Regions from separate parts of the Homo sapiens genome. Here region 2 is linked to region 1. A link means that fine-mapping ties the variant in region 1 to the expression of a gene that starts in the linked region. Tissue or cell type: whole blood. Region 1 holds a variant in brackets; the other region holds the start of a gene. All regions are shown on one strand. Distances are between the middles of the regions.

Region 1 (8,107 bases):
CAAAGAGCATTTCAGGCAGCAGTCAAAGCAAGGGCCACCGTGTGGAGGCAGCAAAATACTTCCCTGTTCAAGGAACAGAAGAGAGTGTGGGGAGAGCGGTTGCATATGCAATGGAGAGATAGGCAGGAGGCAGATCCGAGGGACCTTGTAGGCCATGGTTGGTGTGGATTTTAGTCTTAGTCTCACTCTATGTGAAAAGGGTACTGTGATGCTGTGATGGAGTGGGAGCACGGCATAGGCAGCAGGATGGGCGAGTCATGTTCCTGGGTAAGCCAACACAGCAGCCTGGCTGGAGAGGGAGGCTGCAGTGGAAGCCACCTGGAGACCAAGATTTTAGTTAGATTCTGAAGGTCTTGAGCTAGCTTCTACCTTTATTCCTGTAAACAACGGGAGTTGTTAATTATTCATCAGAGGAACGATTTAATGAATTTAAAAATTGTAGTTAGGCTGGGTGTGGTGGCTTACCCCTATAACCTCAATATTTTGAGAGGCCAAGGAGGGAGGATTGCTTGAGCCCAAGAGTTCAAGACCAGCCTGGGCAACATAGTGAAACCCCATCTCCACAAAAAAGAAAAATATCAGCAGGGCATGGTGGTGTACACCTGTAGTCCCAGCTACTCAGGAGGCTGAGGTGGGAGGATCGCTTGAGCCCAGGAATCCGAACTTGCAGTGAGCTGTAGTCATGCCACTGCACCCTAGCCTGGACAACAGAGCAAGACTCTCTCTCTCTCAAAAAAAAAAAAAAAGAATTGTAGGTATACCTGCCACATCTAACATACTACGGTGGGGGGTACAAAAATGTATAAGAAGTGTTCTCAATCCAATTTACTGAATCTATCCTAAAAATTGTGTCTTACGGATATTCATCAATTGGTGGTGAAGAAACTAGAATAAGAAAACATTTCTGGGCCTAATGCAGTGGGCCTCATCTGTATCACTTGTCCTCCTGCCTCCTTAGCAACCTGGCTCAATCCCTTATGATGTCATCCTCCCTCTCTCTCTGGCTTCCCCTTGGCCCATAAGCACGCTCTCCTGCTCTCTTTAACATCATCCAAACTTTCCAAAAGCAGCATCTCTGAAGACCCCCTTCTCCCCTTTAACTACTGCCCTCCAGCTCACTCTCATCTCCTTTCAAAGCAAAGCTCCTTGGAAGAGTCCTAAATGCTTCCTATCTGTACTTCTCTGTGGTAGGTCTCTAATTCAACCCACCATCATTTGGCTTATCTTGGTCTTCAACCCACCCCACCACAGCCCACCACTCGACTGACATTGCTCTCCTAAGACTCACAATAACCTTAGCAGATTCAAATTCAATGAATACTTTTCTTTCCTTATCATTCTGTATCTTTTTTTTCTTGATGTACTAGTATTTGATGTTGATTTGATCATATTTTCTCTCAGTCCCACCTTGGCTTCCTGATGGGTTTTCTCACCTTTTAGGTTTTCCTCCTACTGCCTCTGTTTCTTCCTTCTCAGTGTCCTCTCCTGTTATCTCTTTTACATGTTGATGTTCCCCAAGGTTCAATCTCCTGCTCATTTCCCTTCTTACCCTATGTACTTTCTCTGAGTGGCCTTATCCAAACCTATGACTTCAGTGGAAACAATCTTCTAGTGACTCTCAATTCTTCACATCCAGCCCAGAACACTCTCCTGAGTCTGTCATGTGAATTTCCAACCAGACTCTCCTGGATACCTCAAAGTAAACCTCTTCCCCATTTCTCCTTTCTAAGTCAGGATGAATGTCAGGATGAATGTCACCACCACCTGCCTTTTGTCGAAGTCAGAAACCTGGAATGTTTCAAGGACACCTCCCTCTGTTTCACCCTACAATGTAATTAGTCATGAAGACCTGTCAGTTCTGTTTTCTAAATGCGTTTTCGTAACTCAGCCTCTCTTCCCTGTTCCCACTGCCATAACCTGAGCCCAGGCTTTTGTCATTTATTGCCTGGGTTACTGACACTACCTTCCAACTAGTTTCTTTGCCTTTAGCCTGGCTTTCTTCCAATTCATCATCTGTGCCACTGTCAAGGTGAGCCTTATAAAATGCAAATTAAACTATGTTACTCCCTTGTCTGAAATATTTCAATGGCTCTATGTGGTCTGCAGAATAATGTTCAAATCTCTTAGCATTTCCTACCAAGTTCCTCCTGGCCTGGCCTCTCCAGGCTCATCTCCCATCAGTCCCTCATAGCCATCCTACACTTCAGACCATCATCTCTCCAATGCTGTTCTGAAGAATACATCCTCAAAATATTGAAGAAAGTTTGCCCAAATAAGTCTGGACTTAAATCCAATCAATAGTTTACATTGGAATACACAACTCAAGCTATTTGGAACAACTTATAGTTCCTACAATATGCCACTCTGTCTTTTGCTTCTCCCCTTCTGCCTAGGATACCATTCACTTATTAATTAATTGATTACAAAAGTCAACTGTTCTGTATCTGCTGAGCAGACTGAAAAAAGTGCTGTATCCTGGGCATACAAAAGGAAAAAAGGCTCCAGGTGAGCCAAACAAGTAAACAGACAATTACAATATGTCATGATAAATGCTGTATAACTTAGCAGCATAAAGTGGGGGCCCTGAGTTGGAGTAATCAGAGGACAGTAACTTTTCCCCCTGCTTCATGTGAGTTATCTCTGAGAAAGGTGTCAGTTTTACTTTATGTATTTTGAGCTTAGTTGTTAAAGGCACATATATTTCTAATTGTTATGTCTTTCTGATGTATTGACTCTTATTGTTATGAAATTGTTCCTCTTTGTCTCTAGTAATATTTCTAGTTTTAAAGTCTGTTTTGTCTGTTAATATAACCATTTCAGTCCTCTAATAGTTACTCTTTGAATGGTGTATCTTTTTCCATCTTCTTACTTTCAGCCTATTTGTGTCTTTGAATCTAAGCCTCTTATAGATATCATATAGTTGGCTCTTGTCTTTTTATTCAGTCTAATAATCTCTGGGTTTTGATTGGGGTATGTAGACCATTCACATTTAATGTAATTGTTGATATGGTTAGATTTATATTTGCTATTTTTCTATTTGTTTTCTATATGTCAACTTTCTTTTTTATTAATCGGTTAATCCTTGATTGCTTTCCTTTTTTCTTTTCTTTTGTGTTAAATATTTTTAGGGTAACGTCTGAATTACTCCACATTTTGAAAAAAGTTTTAGCTATTTCTCAGAGATTGTAGTCTAAGAATTACAATATATGTCTTTATTTATCATAATGTACTTCAGATTAATACTAAATTCCTGAAAAACATAAAAATTTTGCTTCAATATTCTTCTATCCCTCCCACCTTCTTTGTGCTATTATTTACATATATATTACATCTATATGTTATAAACACAGCAATACAATGTTGTAATTATTGCTTTATACAATCTCATGTCTTTGAAAAAAGTTAGATAAGAAATGAGAGGCCGGGCGTGGTGGCTCATGCCTGTAATCCCAGCACTTTGGGAGGCTGAGGCGGGCGGATCACCTGAGGTCAGGAGTTCAAGACCAGCCTGACCAACAAGGAGAAACCCCGCCTTTACTAAAAATACAAAATTAGCTGGGCATGGTGGCACATGCCTGTAATCCCAGCTACTAGGGAGCCTGAGGCAGAAGAATCGCTTGAACCTGGGAGGTAGAGGTTGTGGTGAGCCGAGATCGTGCCATTGCACTCCAGCCTGGGCAACAAGAGTGAAACTCCGTCTCAAAAAAAAAAAAAAAAAAAAAGAAATGAGAAGAAAAATTACCATAGATGATTTTGTAATAACCTGTATAACTATTACTTTTGTGCTCTTCATTTTTCCCTTTAGGAATGGGTACTCCAAATTGAATGAGCCCCTTTGACTGTGGTAGAGGTGCTGCTTGCGCTGA[G/C]AGCTTGCCCTTCCCAGACAGAACATCTACATTAACCAAGCTGGGGTCAGCAAGGGGAATGAGAGAGGCCCCAGGCCAAATGCATCAGATGCTCACTGTTCTTACCTGGAGTTCAGTCATTTTCAAGCATAACTGCTTTCAGACTGTTGTGTGTCTTTGATCTCAGAGTGCTGAAATGGTTGTTTTGGTCAGTTTTGTCCAGTTTTATGTTTGCATTTTGGCAAGATGATTTGCTGATCTTGTCAGTCACCCATAACTAGAAGTTATTAGTGATATAGCTTTTAGTTAACAGCAAGTCCATTTGGTCAGGGGGAATAAGGTGGCTCAAGAATTTAAGGAGTGAAGGACTGAATTGTAGAACAAAGTCAGAAATTGCCTAGTTGTAGATAACAGTTACAGCCCATCCCGCCTCATGGACTTTGAAGGAGATTCCTGTGTCAGCAGAAGGCCCCAGGTGAACCAGGGTGCAATTCGCATTTCTGCTTCTTCTCATTCTTGGAATAAGCAGAAGCAGATATAAAAGGGAGAGATGGCTGAGGGTGAGATACCCTCTAGGTCCTTACACTTATGAGACTGACAGTGCTGCCCACTGCATCAAGAGGGCTACTTGGGTCCTTTCATGTGAGTCAAATAGCTCATCCTTCCTGTCCAAATGGCAGGAACTTGACCAAAGGATTATGACCCTTGCAAAGATGAAGAGGGCAGGAGGTAATGGGCTAGGGTTCATTCTGGAGAGCAGAGAATGACTTTAATTAAGGAAAATTTGTGTCCCAAGAGACTGGATTGAGTACACAAGAGAACTTTGCGTTTTGTGCTTTAAAAATCTGCATCTTGAAGAAAGTGGAATGATGGTTGTCAGGGGCTGCGGTAGGGGGGATGAGGAGTTACTGATTAATGGGTACAGAGTTTCAGTTTTGCAAAATGAAGAGATCTGGAGATGGATGGCAGTCATAATTGCACAATAATATGGATATACTTAATACCACTGAACTGTACGCTTAAAATGGTTAAGATGGTAAATTTTATGTTACATGTATTTTAACACAATTTTTAAAATTAAGAAAATCAAAGAATTTTTTTAGAAAGCCTGTATCACAGGGCAACACTGTGCATGGTTTGTGGAGTTTATGGTATAAAAATCTATGTGACTGTTGCCTGGCGTTCTACATTATTCCTGGTCATTTAAGTCATAAATCCACAGTGTCTTGCCAACTTTGGAAGTTCCCATGATTACTGGTAGTTTATGTGATAGGTGAACTCCCTTTTTTTTTTTAACTGGACTCAGGCTTATAATTAAGTGAGTGGAAACAATCAGCCAAGTCTTGATGCACATGCACTCTTCTGAGAAAGTCCCAGAGTATTGCTCTGACAGATGACAGATGTCCTTACAGGGACAGAGCTGGCAACACATCGACCTCCCTAGTGGTCACCAGCTGCTAGTGGGTCCACCAGCTGGAAAACACCTTTGTGTTATTCTTATATTTCTCTTCTCATAAAAATGCTACAAAGATTGTAAGGCATTTGGAGCTGGGTAAAGATTAAGTTTTGGAGAAATTGGATTAATATTCATTATAATAGGCCAGGATAAAAGAATTAATGAAAATGTCAAAAAGAAAAAATAACTTTTCTTTTTAGGCAGGACATTTATAAAAATTTATAGTCTTGGTCAAATAAATTGTGTACAGACATACATACAATTTTTTTTTTTTTTGAGATGGAGTCTTGCTCTGTCGCCAGGCTGGAGTGTAGTGGCACGATCTCGACTCACTGCAACCTCTGCCTCCTGGGTTCAAGCGATTCTCCTGCCTCAGTCTCCTGAGTAGCTGGAATACAGGCGCCCACCACCATGCCCAGCTAATTTTTGTATTTTTAGTAGAGATGGGGTTTCACCATGTTGGCCAGGATGGTCTCGATCTCTTGACCTCATGATCCGCCCACTTCTGCCTCCCAAAGTGTTGGGATTACAGATGTAAGCCACCGTGCCCAGCCCATACATACGATTTTAAAAGTAATCTAAAGGGATGTTTTCCAATTTTTTTTTCTTTTTGGTAGAGTTGGGGGCCTCACTATATTGCTCTGGCTGGTCTTGAACTCCTAGGTGCAAGTGATCCTCCCGTCTCAGCCTCTCCAAATGTTGGGATTATAGGCCTGAAACACCGCACCCAGCTCCAATTTTTAAAATGTTGAGTATATATTAATTACAAAAGCTATTTCTCTTGAATCTCTCAAATGTGATGTGGAATGAAAGAAGGCAAACACAGAAGACAGTACATATCATATGACTCTATTTATATAAAGTACAAAACCAGTCAAAGCTGTTCTATGCTATTAGAGGTAAAGAATCAATTACCCTTTGATGAAGGGTGTTGACTTCAAAGGAGCATGAAGAGGGCTTGTGGGGCTACTGGTTATTTTGTGTTTCTTGATCTGTAGCTATATTATATTTCAATAAAGTATTTTTTTCAAGTTTGCATTCTTCTTAGTGTTTACAGTTACATTTAAAGTTGAGAGGAATTAAAAAGTGAGTGTGTGAATGTGTAAGACCCCACATTTTGCCTTCTTGTCACTCGTATGGAAAAACTGATCATTTTTCACGAGGTCAGGAGATCGAGACCATCCTGGCCAACATGGTGAAACCCTGTCTCTACTAAAAGTACAAAAATTAGCTGGGAGTGGAGGCGCGTGCCTGTAATCCCAGCTACTCGGGAGACTGAGGCGGGAGAATCCCTTGAACCCAGGAGGCGGAGGTTGCAGTGAGCCGAGATCGCACCACTGCACTCCAGTATGGCAACATAGTGAGACTCCGTCTCAAAAAAAAAAAAAAACTGATCATTTTAAATGTTAATGTGATTCCAGAGAAAACACAGAGCATTATTTTGTACTTTGCTTTATTTTTCAACATGTGCCTGTAAACCAAAGAATATCTGAGACAAGACTCAATTTAGGAAGTTTATTCTGCCAAGGTTAAGAATGCACTCGTGACATGGCCCCAGGAGTCCTGAAGACATGTGCCCAGGGTGATTGGGGCACAGCTTGGTATTTTACATTTTAGGAAGACACGGGACATCAATCAATATACATAAGACGTACATTGGTTTGGTCCAGAAAGGCAAGACAACTTGAAGTGTGGTGGGGGCTTCCAGGTCACAGGTAGATAAAGGACAAACGGTTGCATTCTTTTGAGTTTCTGATGAGCCTTTCACTGAATACGGCAATTTACAGGAACAGTCACTTAGGCCTTTGTCTGGCTTAGTGAAACAATAGGCCGAAGGTAGCAATCAGATATGCATTTGTCTTACGTGAACAGAGGAATGGCTTTGAGTTCTGTCTGTCCTTTTGTCCGCAGGGAATTTTCTTGTGGGCAGATTGTAAGGGAGGTATATAGCTTTTTTATCTTTGTAGCTATCTTATTGAGGAGTAGAATGGGAGGCAGGTTTGCCCTATGCAGTTCCCAGCTTGACTTTTCCCTTTGGTTTAGTGATTTGGGGGTACTGAGATTTATTTTCCTTTCACATGCCTATAGGTTCAAGTAGCCATGACATTTCATGAGCATTAGCATAAAGCTGGGCGGCTGAATAGAATTTTGTTTCTCTTATCAACTTATAATTTTCCCCAGGGCTACTTTCAATCTAGGAAAAATTTAACTCCCCAATGATGTCAAAGACAGCATATTCCAGAGATTAATTAACGAGTCACCCAGAGAAGATAGAAGTGCTATTATGCTGACATGTTCAAGGGCTAATCGGTTCTGATGATGTAATTTGCAGTAGTGCTTGATGTATATTAGCCTGATGGGTGACAGCTGCTCTGGGCCCAGATGATTAAAGTGTGAAGCACGAGGGTGGGGTGGAGGGTCGTCGGGGTGTGGTGAGTGCTTTCAAATGGAAAGAGAGTTTTTTTATAGAGCCAGAGTGAATACAGCCTGGTTATGCTGGTTACCTCACCTACCACCTAGAAAGCCTGTTTAATCATCTCTTTATCTACACAGACTTTATCAGGCCTAACACAATCTCCACTCCCGCCTCCCCTCAGCCAAGACCGCCCCAGTCAACATTGGCTGATGCTCCCTTCCCCAAACAACTGTGCAACTTACAGTCAGCATCACATACTTTAGCACCTATTTCTTCAATAGTTATTTCAGGAATGTGTACCATGTTCCCCAACTTAAGCATAAGCTACTTAAGAACATCATTTTTTTCTATGTTCTCCACAGCATGGGGGATAAGCATAAAAGTTCAATA
Region 2 (8,107 bases), 42 kb after region 1:
TTGCAGTGAGCCGAGATCACACCACTGCACTCCAGCCTTGGCGACAGACGGAAACTTCATCTTAAAAAATATATATATATATATATTTATATATATATATATATACACACATACACATACATACACACAGAAAAAAACATATATAGGCCTAACTTTTTCAAAGTAGCTTTATTGAGGTATAATTTACAAAGCATATAATTCACCCATTCTAAGTGTAAAATCATCACCATAATCTAGTTATAAAACCCTTTTTTATTGTCCCCCAAAATTCTCTCATGCTCATGGGCTTAACTTTTTTTATTTGGCCATGTATTATGTTATTAAAAGGAAAAGCTTTTACAAGAGGCTCATTTCCATTTCTTTTTTTCATAATATATGAAAAAATTTATGATAATATTTCTATTTCTTTTTTTTTTTTTTTGAGACAGGGTCTAGCTCTGTCGCCCAGGTGAAGTGCAGTGGCACGATCTCAGGTCACTGCAACCTCCGCCTCCCAGGTTCAAGCGATTCTCCTGCCTCAGCCTCCCGAGTAGCTGGGATTACAGATGCATGACACCACACCCGGCTAATTTTTGTATTTTTGTTAGAGACGGGGTATTGCCATGTTGGCCATGCTCATCTCAAACTCCTGACCTGAGGTGATCCACCCACCTCAGCCTCTCAAATTGCTGGGATTACAGGTGTGAGCCCCCGTGCCCAGCCTATTTCTATTTCTTAATGGTGTCAGAACTTTATCTTTGCTTTGCTAGTGACTTTTTAAAAACCACTTATTGAATTATGATTGACATACAATAAGCTGCTCATACTTAATGTATATAACTAGATGAGCTGGGTGATAACTGTACATCACCACTGCCTATTACATAAACATATCCATCATCACAGGCTTAACTTTTAACAGTGGTTAGGTCGAGGGTAACTATGAGTAGGGGGGAAGGAAGGAGGACAGAACTATAGACAGCTTCCTAGTTTATAATTTCTGTATTATTTGAATTATTTACAACAAAAATATACTATCTTTCATTTTTATTTTTTCTTCGAGACAAGTTCTAGCTCTGTTGCCCAGGCTGACGTGCAGTGGCACAAACATGGCTCACTGCAGCCTCATCCTCTTGGGCCCAAGTGATCCTCCTGCCTCAGCCTCCCCAGTAGCTGAGACCACAGGTGAGTGCCACCATGCCCAGCTAATTTTTCTGTTTTTAATTTTTGGTAGATGTGATCTCGCCATGTTGCCCAGTCTGGTCTCAAATTCCTGGGCTCAAGAAATCCTCCCACCTCAGCCTGGGATTATAGGTGTGAGCCACCCCACCCAGCCAGTAATACACTATCTTTTAATTGACAAAATAGTAAAGTCTTTTCTATTTTGAAAAGAACAAAATAAGGAAACAGACATATACCCATTGACCGAAATCTACTTTTGGCAATTTATCCTAAGGAAATAATCAAATATGTGGAAAAAGATTTGTGTACAAAGATATTTATCCGTATTTTATTAAAAACAGAGGAATTATAATCTAAATATCTCATAATGGAAGAGAACAATTATTAATTGTATTGAAATATGCGAAGTGCAGGATGCAAACCTTTTTATGTAATACAACCTCAACCATGTTGAAAAAAGTTAATGCACAACCAAAAAAATCCTGTTTTGAAATATAAGTTCTTATCAATGGTTGTGTCTGGATAGTAGAATTATAGTACTTTTAATTTAATTTTATTTTTTAAGCATTTCATTTTCTCCATAAATGATAATAATTACAAATAATTATAGTATTGTTTTCACAGGTCTATACATTTGTCAAAACATATAAAAGTGCACACTTGCAGCAAACCACCATGGCACGTGTATACCTATGTAACAAACCTGCACGTTCTGCATGTGTATCCCAGAACTTAAAGTATAATTTTAAAAAAAAGCAAACAAGTACTAGCAAAAAAACCAAATGCACACTTTAAATATGTACAGTTTATTGTATATCAATATATTGCAATAACACTTAAAAAAATAGAAGGATCTCAAGGAATTGAATCATCTTAAGCGTCTTACTGGAAGGGGGGTTTTGCTATGCCATTTTGGGGCTGAAGGGCAAAATGACTGGGGGGGCAGACATTATATAAATAGCAATATATACATACATTGTCTCTGCTCCAGATACCGCCATTCATTCATTCATTCACCAGATCTGCCTTCCTATTATATGCCAGGAATGTTGCCGGGTACTTGGATATCTTGATGAACAACAAACCACTGGCCTGAAAGAGCTCCCGTCTGGTGGAGGAGGGGAAGGTAGGTCACCACCTGACGGATTCCAGCCAACGTCCACACTGCCCCACCAGGGAGTGCTGCCCAAGGGGGCTGGAGGCAGATCAGGAAGTGGGGGCCTTAGCTGAGGTGGAGTCACCAAGAGTGACACCAGGTTTACAGTTGTGGAGGTGGCCAGAAGTTAGTTTTACCCTCAAGGGAGTGTCGCAGTCATCAGTTGAGAAGTGGGGGCCCGGCGCGGTGGCTCACGCCAGTACTTTGGGAGGCCGAGGCGGGCGGATCACGAGGTCAGGAGATCGAGACCATCCTGGCTAACACGGTGAAACCCCGTCTCTACTAAAAATACAAAAAAATTAGCGGGGCGTGGTGGCGGGCGCCTGTAGTCCCAGCTACTCGGGAGGCTGAGGCAGGAGAATAGCGTGAAGCCGGGAGGCGGAGCTTGCGGTGAGCCTAGTTCGCGCCACTGCACTCCAGCCTGGGCGACAGATCGAGACTCCGTCTCAAAAAAAAAAAAAAAAAAAAAAAAAGAAAGAAAGAAAAAAAAGAGAAGTGGTCTTAAACAGTTTTTATGTATCTGTGTCTATCTTGCCTGCACACTTAAAACAACAAGAGTAAGAACTAAGATTGAGCGTTTACGGGTGCAGGGGCCGCGCAAAGGGCTTCCATCTATTGTCTCATTCACAACCTTCTGGTAGGGACTATTAGGATCTTCATTTTACGGCGAGGAAACCGAGGCTCGGAGAGGTCACCTGCCCAAGGTCACAGATCTCTCTCTCCAAAGCTCAAGCTCACAACCACCACACAAACTCCCCTCTCACTGTACCTGGGGCCCGTCTGAGAGCGAAAAAGTCCGCTTTCAGGTCCCAACCCTAACAGGTCCGGCTTTCACTCCACAGTTTTTCCCAGATCCAGAATGGAGACAACATCCGCTAGCACAATCAACAGGGTCGTCCCACGGGGGCCGCTCCATCAAGGCCGTGGACTGACAGGATTTGGGGCTTGGAGGGCAAATGAGAAACAATCGTCAGGGACCGAAGAACAAATGCGTCCATCACACCAGCCCCCCGCACCCCGAGCCCCGTGCTCCGCTCACGCGAACCCTCGGGGGCAGCCAGTCTGAGGGACGTAGCGCGCGTGCGCGGGGCCAGAGGGGACGCCCCCACGCGAGCGCGCGGTGAGCAGGGCGCGTGACCGGGCGGGCGCGCAGCCGGGAAAGCGCGCGGGCGCGCTACGGAGTCGGCGTCGGCGCGCGCTCCAGGCCGAGGCTGTGTGGGCTGGGGAGGGAGACAGGCGGCGGCGGCGGCGCCCCAGACCCGAGGGGACGCGCGGGCCTTGCGCCGCGGGAGCGGACGGCGGCGGAGGAGACCCTAGGCTCGCGGCCCGAGGCGGGAGGGCTCGGCTTCTCGACTGCCCGCCTCCGAGGCCGCCGGCCGCTTCTCTCTCCCAGAGTGGCCGCCGCCCCTGGAGACTCGCCGTGACACGGGCCTAAGCCGCCGCCGCGGGAGTCCTGACCGCTCGGACCCGTCGGATCAGGCCGGGTGGGAGCGAGCTTGCGGGCAGGTGCCGCTCCCGGAGGGTGGGCCGGAGGCGAGGCGCCCACCGCGCGGCTCGCGGGCCGGGCTCGGCGGAGGGGCCGCTCGCGCAGCACCCCCACCGCGGGCCGGAGCCCGGGTCGCCGCCCCGCCTTCTCCCGGGACCGCCCGGCCGGAGCTGCGGGGGCCGAGGGACGCCGCGCCCGCCGCCGCCAGCCGGGCTCGCGCGGGAGAGCAGGGAAGAGAAACTTTGCCTTTTATTGTTTTTAGTCCTTAAGTGCAAGGAACTCTGTGTTGGGAGGAAAAATGTCCTTCTTCAATTTCCGTAAGATCTTCAAGTTGGGGAGCGAGAAGAAGAAGAAGCAGTACGAACACGTGAAGAGGGACCTGAACCCCGAAGACTTTTGGGAGATTATAGGAGAACTGGGCGACGGAGCCTTTGGGAAAGTGTACAAGGTAAGAGGGGGAAAACGGGAAGTTGTACTGCGAAGGTAAAACAGCCACTGGCCTGGAGTGGCGGGAGGACTTCTGCTCCCCTGGTCCTTATCCTGTCCTTCTTTTGACTGTTACGGTTCGATGCAACTTTACTTGGCTGATCATCCAAGGAGTAGCTAAGAAGTCGGGTTTACGGTGGAACAAAATGGGGCCTGGATGGAGTTTAAAGAGCGATTGGAAAAGGAGACAGGGTTATAAAGTCTACTCTTTCAAACTTCAAAGGAAATGAGAGTGTTCTTTAATTTATAGGAGGGGTCTGGTTGTGCCCTTCAAGTATTTTAGAATGAGAAACTCATTGCACTTTGCAGTGGATTTGTCTACTGACTGCATTCGCGTGCATGCTTGTACTCCAACAGTTCTGTTTTTAGGGTCCAGTATATATATTTGGTTGTATCTAGAGCTAATACAGAACTAGTTGGGATCAAAGTGATTGCTACTTGCAGTCTCTTCTTGAGTTAGTTGCTTGACAGCATACTATAAAATAGAATGGAATTTCTGACAAAATTTCCAAAAAACCTTCATGTGGTACTAGTTTTAAATATATTTATGGTAAGCATTGACTAGAAGTCAGTATCAGCGCTTAAGCAGTTAAAAACACACACGCATGTATTTATTTCAATAGAAAGAGGCTTGGCGTTTCAACCTGAAGGCATTAATGTTAACTATTTAATATCTCCTAAGGAACATATGAATGATGTCATTGGAGTATTTTCATCCTGAAGGGCGAATTTTTTATGAGACAGCGTTTAGGGGAAGGACCCACAGGGTTGCCTAGAAGTGAAAACGTAAGAAAATAACTTATGTTTATACAGGACTTTGAAGTTTTTAAGTACTTTCAAATAATTTGGCCCCCACAAAAATCTTGTGAGGTAGGCAGGTCAGTATTAGTATCCACATTTCACAGATGAAGATATTGAAATTGTTCACAGTCACATGAGTCTCAGCCTAGACTTGAACTCAGGTCTTCTGAGCCCATATTTAGTATTGTTTTTTATTTTAACAGTCACTGGTAGAAATGAGAGCATTTTGCCTACTACTTTCTTTTTTTTTTGAGACGGAGTTTCGCCCCTTTTGCCCAGGCTGGAGTGCAATAGCGCGATCTCGGCTCACTGCAACCTCCCCCTCCCGGGTTCAAGCGATTCTCCTGCCTCAGCCTCCCGTAGTAGCTGGGTTTACAGGCATACGCCACCATGCCCGGCTAATTTTGTATTTTTAGTAGAGACAGGGTTTCTCCATGTTGGTCAGGCTGGTCTTGAACTCCCGACCTCAGGTGATCCGCCCGCCTCGGCCTCCCAAAGTGCTAGGATTACAGGCGTGAGCCACCGTCCCCGGCTGCCTACTACTTTCTAAGCACCATTACACTTCTGCCTCTGCCCTGCCTCAAATGCATCTTGTCAAAACCCCAGTCCTCATTCTTTATCCAGGCTAAAATATCTACTCCTCTCTGTGTGCTTTCAGAACACGTTGTTCACATGGCTATTATAGCACTTGTCACTTATTACAATTAATATGTTTATGTTTCTATAATAAAATTAAGGGCCAAAATTATGATACATATTTGGGTTCATTCACTGCCTTAGCGTATAGTGATGTGTCTGTTTATTTGTTGAAATGAAAGAATGTGTTTTGTCTGCATATGAATGCTGTCGTGGAAGCTATCATAGGCTGTGGAAGTTGGCAAAATAAGCTTTGTTATTTGTGTGGAGGGTAGAGTATGGGCTTCAGCAAGAGCTTCATAAGATGCAAGGCTTCATTGTAGTGGGAAGATCACTCCTGGGAATCAAGAGTTGTGTTTTAGTGCTGGCTGTCACAAACCAGCGTTGTAATCCTGGACAAAACACTTAACTTCTCTGGACCTCCGTTTTCTTAGCCATAATATTAACTTTCTTAGGAGTTTAGATTCTTTCACCCATTAAAGTTCTGTGAGTATGTAATTAGCCTGGAAAGGCAAAAATAAATGCTCAAGGCACCTAGAATCTTGTAGTTAGAAGGTGGTAGGTGATTATGGGCAGTTTTCATGGTGTAAATAAGTTTTATCGAATATAAACAGCTTAGTAGTAAGAGCACTGGCTCTGGAGTTGGAATATAACTTAGCTCTCTCACTCAATAGCAGCATATGACCTTGAGCAAGTTTCTTATTTGTCCTGTGCCTAACTTTGCTCATCCATAAGACATCCTCAGTGTGAGGATTGAAAAAGATAATATAAGGCACATGGAAAGGGCTCAGTAAATGGTAGAAATTACTGTTATTACATTTAGAGCTCATAGATGCAAACTTTGGGATGAGATAGGGAAAGGAACCAAGAAGATAATAAACCATTTTGTTGGTTTCTAATGGCATGGGCAGACTGTGTGGAGATACTAAAGCCCTGTGTTATTCTTTCATGACACTTTCTGCAAAATGTGATCTATCTTCCTGTACTGAGACATTAATTGAAAAATTTCTGAAGAACAAGAGTCTTATTTCATGTAGTTATTTGAGCACTATAAAATTGTGTCAAGGAGAATTTCTGTGATCTTGATGACTGTATTTTAGTATGATATTTGAAGAGCACGGGCTGGCACTATTTTTTCTTTTTTCATTTCACTACTCTCTGCTTCTAAGGAGTAGGGTATGAGTTTTTTAAAAAATAAAATTTGAAATTAAAACTTATCTGTCTTCTTATGGCCTCTTTTTTCTAAAAGTTTTTGTTTTTCAAGATTCCATAGAAATTGAGGATTTATAAACTTCCTTATATTTGGAAGAAAAAGCTATGGAACCTTAACATAGTACGTAGTAGTATGTAGTAGAAAACTGTTTATAAACTTGATTCTAACTATCATTTGCTTACAGAAATTAGTAACTGTTACAAAGATTATATTGTAAATAGAGATGAGGTTGAGTATCCCATTTCCCAAATGCTTGGGACCAGAAGTGTTTTGGATTTTGGAATTTTTTGGATTTTGGAATATTTGCATTATACTTAGTTATTGAACATCTGAAATTGAAAATGCTCTAGTGATCATTTCCTTTGAACATCATGTCATGTTAGCACTCAGAAAGTTTCAGATTTTGGAGCATTTCAGATTAGATTTTCAGATTTGGGATGTGTAACCTATAGGTAATCATGTTGTGTATTTAGTCTGAGTCATTCTTCCATCGTGTACTTGTTGTATTCCTTCCACTCAGTCCAGCACTGTACACATTTAACAGTTACTTCCTTGCCTGAAAAAGCTTCACTACTTTAAATTTATTTTCTCTTTTAAAAATAGTATTATTTGACATATAAATGAAGATATGTAATATCCTTCACAATATTTTATCTTTGGGTTTCTCTTTTTTTGTTGTTGTTGTTTTGTTTGTGTTTTGTTTTGTTTTGAGATGGAGTCCCTCTCTGTCGCCCAGGCTGCAGTGCTGTGGCGCAATCTCGGCTCACTGCAACCTCCGCCTCCCAGGTTCAAGCAATTCTCCTGCCTCAGCCTCCGGAGTAGTTGGGATTACAGGCACGCACCACCGTGCCGGGCTAATTTTTTGTATTTTTAGTAGAGACGGGGTTTCACCATGTTTGCCAGGGTGGTCTTTCCTGACCTCAGGTGATCCGCCTGCCTTGGCCTCCCAAAGTGTTGGGATTAGAGGCATGAGCCACTGCCCCTCACCCCCTGCTGGATTTCTCTTGTTTTTAACAGAAAAAAAAGAATGACATAAGATTATGAATTGAATTGCATTTCTAGAAAGCTATTTTATCTATTAAACCAGTTGAAACTAAACTCTTGGCTGTGTGCTGGATGAAAGTAGTTTTTATATGACAACTGATGGCTGTGTGCCTTTTAAAAAATA

What was found. PIP is the estimated chance that this variant, and not a neighbour inherited with it, causes the effect.
Region 2: it holds the start of SLK, and the variant in region 1 is fine-mapped to the expression of SLK in whole blood (TOPMed, PIP above 0.99).

What each region holds. Positions count from the first base shown.
Region 1 is chr10:103,921,857-103,929,963 of GRCh38, forward strand. No RefSeq gene overlaps it. Among named protein-coding and RNA genes, the nearest start is that of STN1, 7.7 kb to the left of the region's middle. RefSeq lists enhancers at 5,269-5,934, 6,601-7,266. The variant G/C (reference allele first, on the strand shown) is at 3,867.
Region 2 is chr10:103,963,645-103,971,751 of GRCh38, forward strand. SLK (STE20 like kinase) reads left to right here and starts at 3,496. Exons shown (of 19, transcript NM_014720.4): 1 at 3,496-4,251. The coding sequence starts at 4,102. It overlaps LOC102724351 (a long non-coding RNA gene), which reads right to left and starts at 3,401. Exons shown (of 5, transcript XR_007062282.1): 1 at 2,137-3,401. RefSeq lists silencers at 3,358-3,817, 3,858-3,907, 3,918-4,017 and enhancers at 7,367-7,868, 7,869-8,107.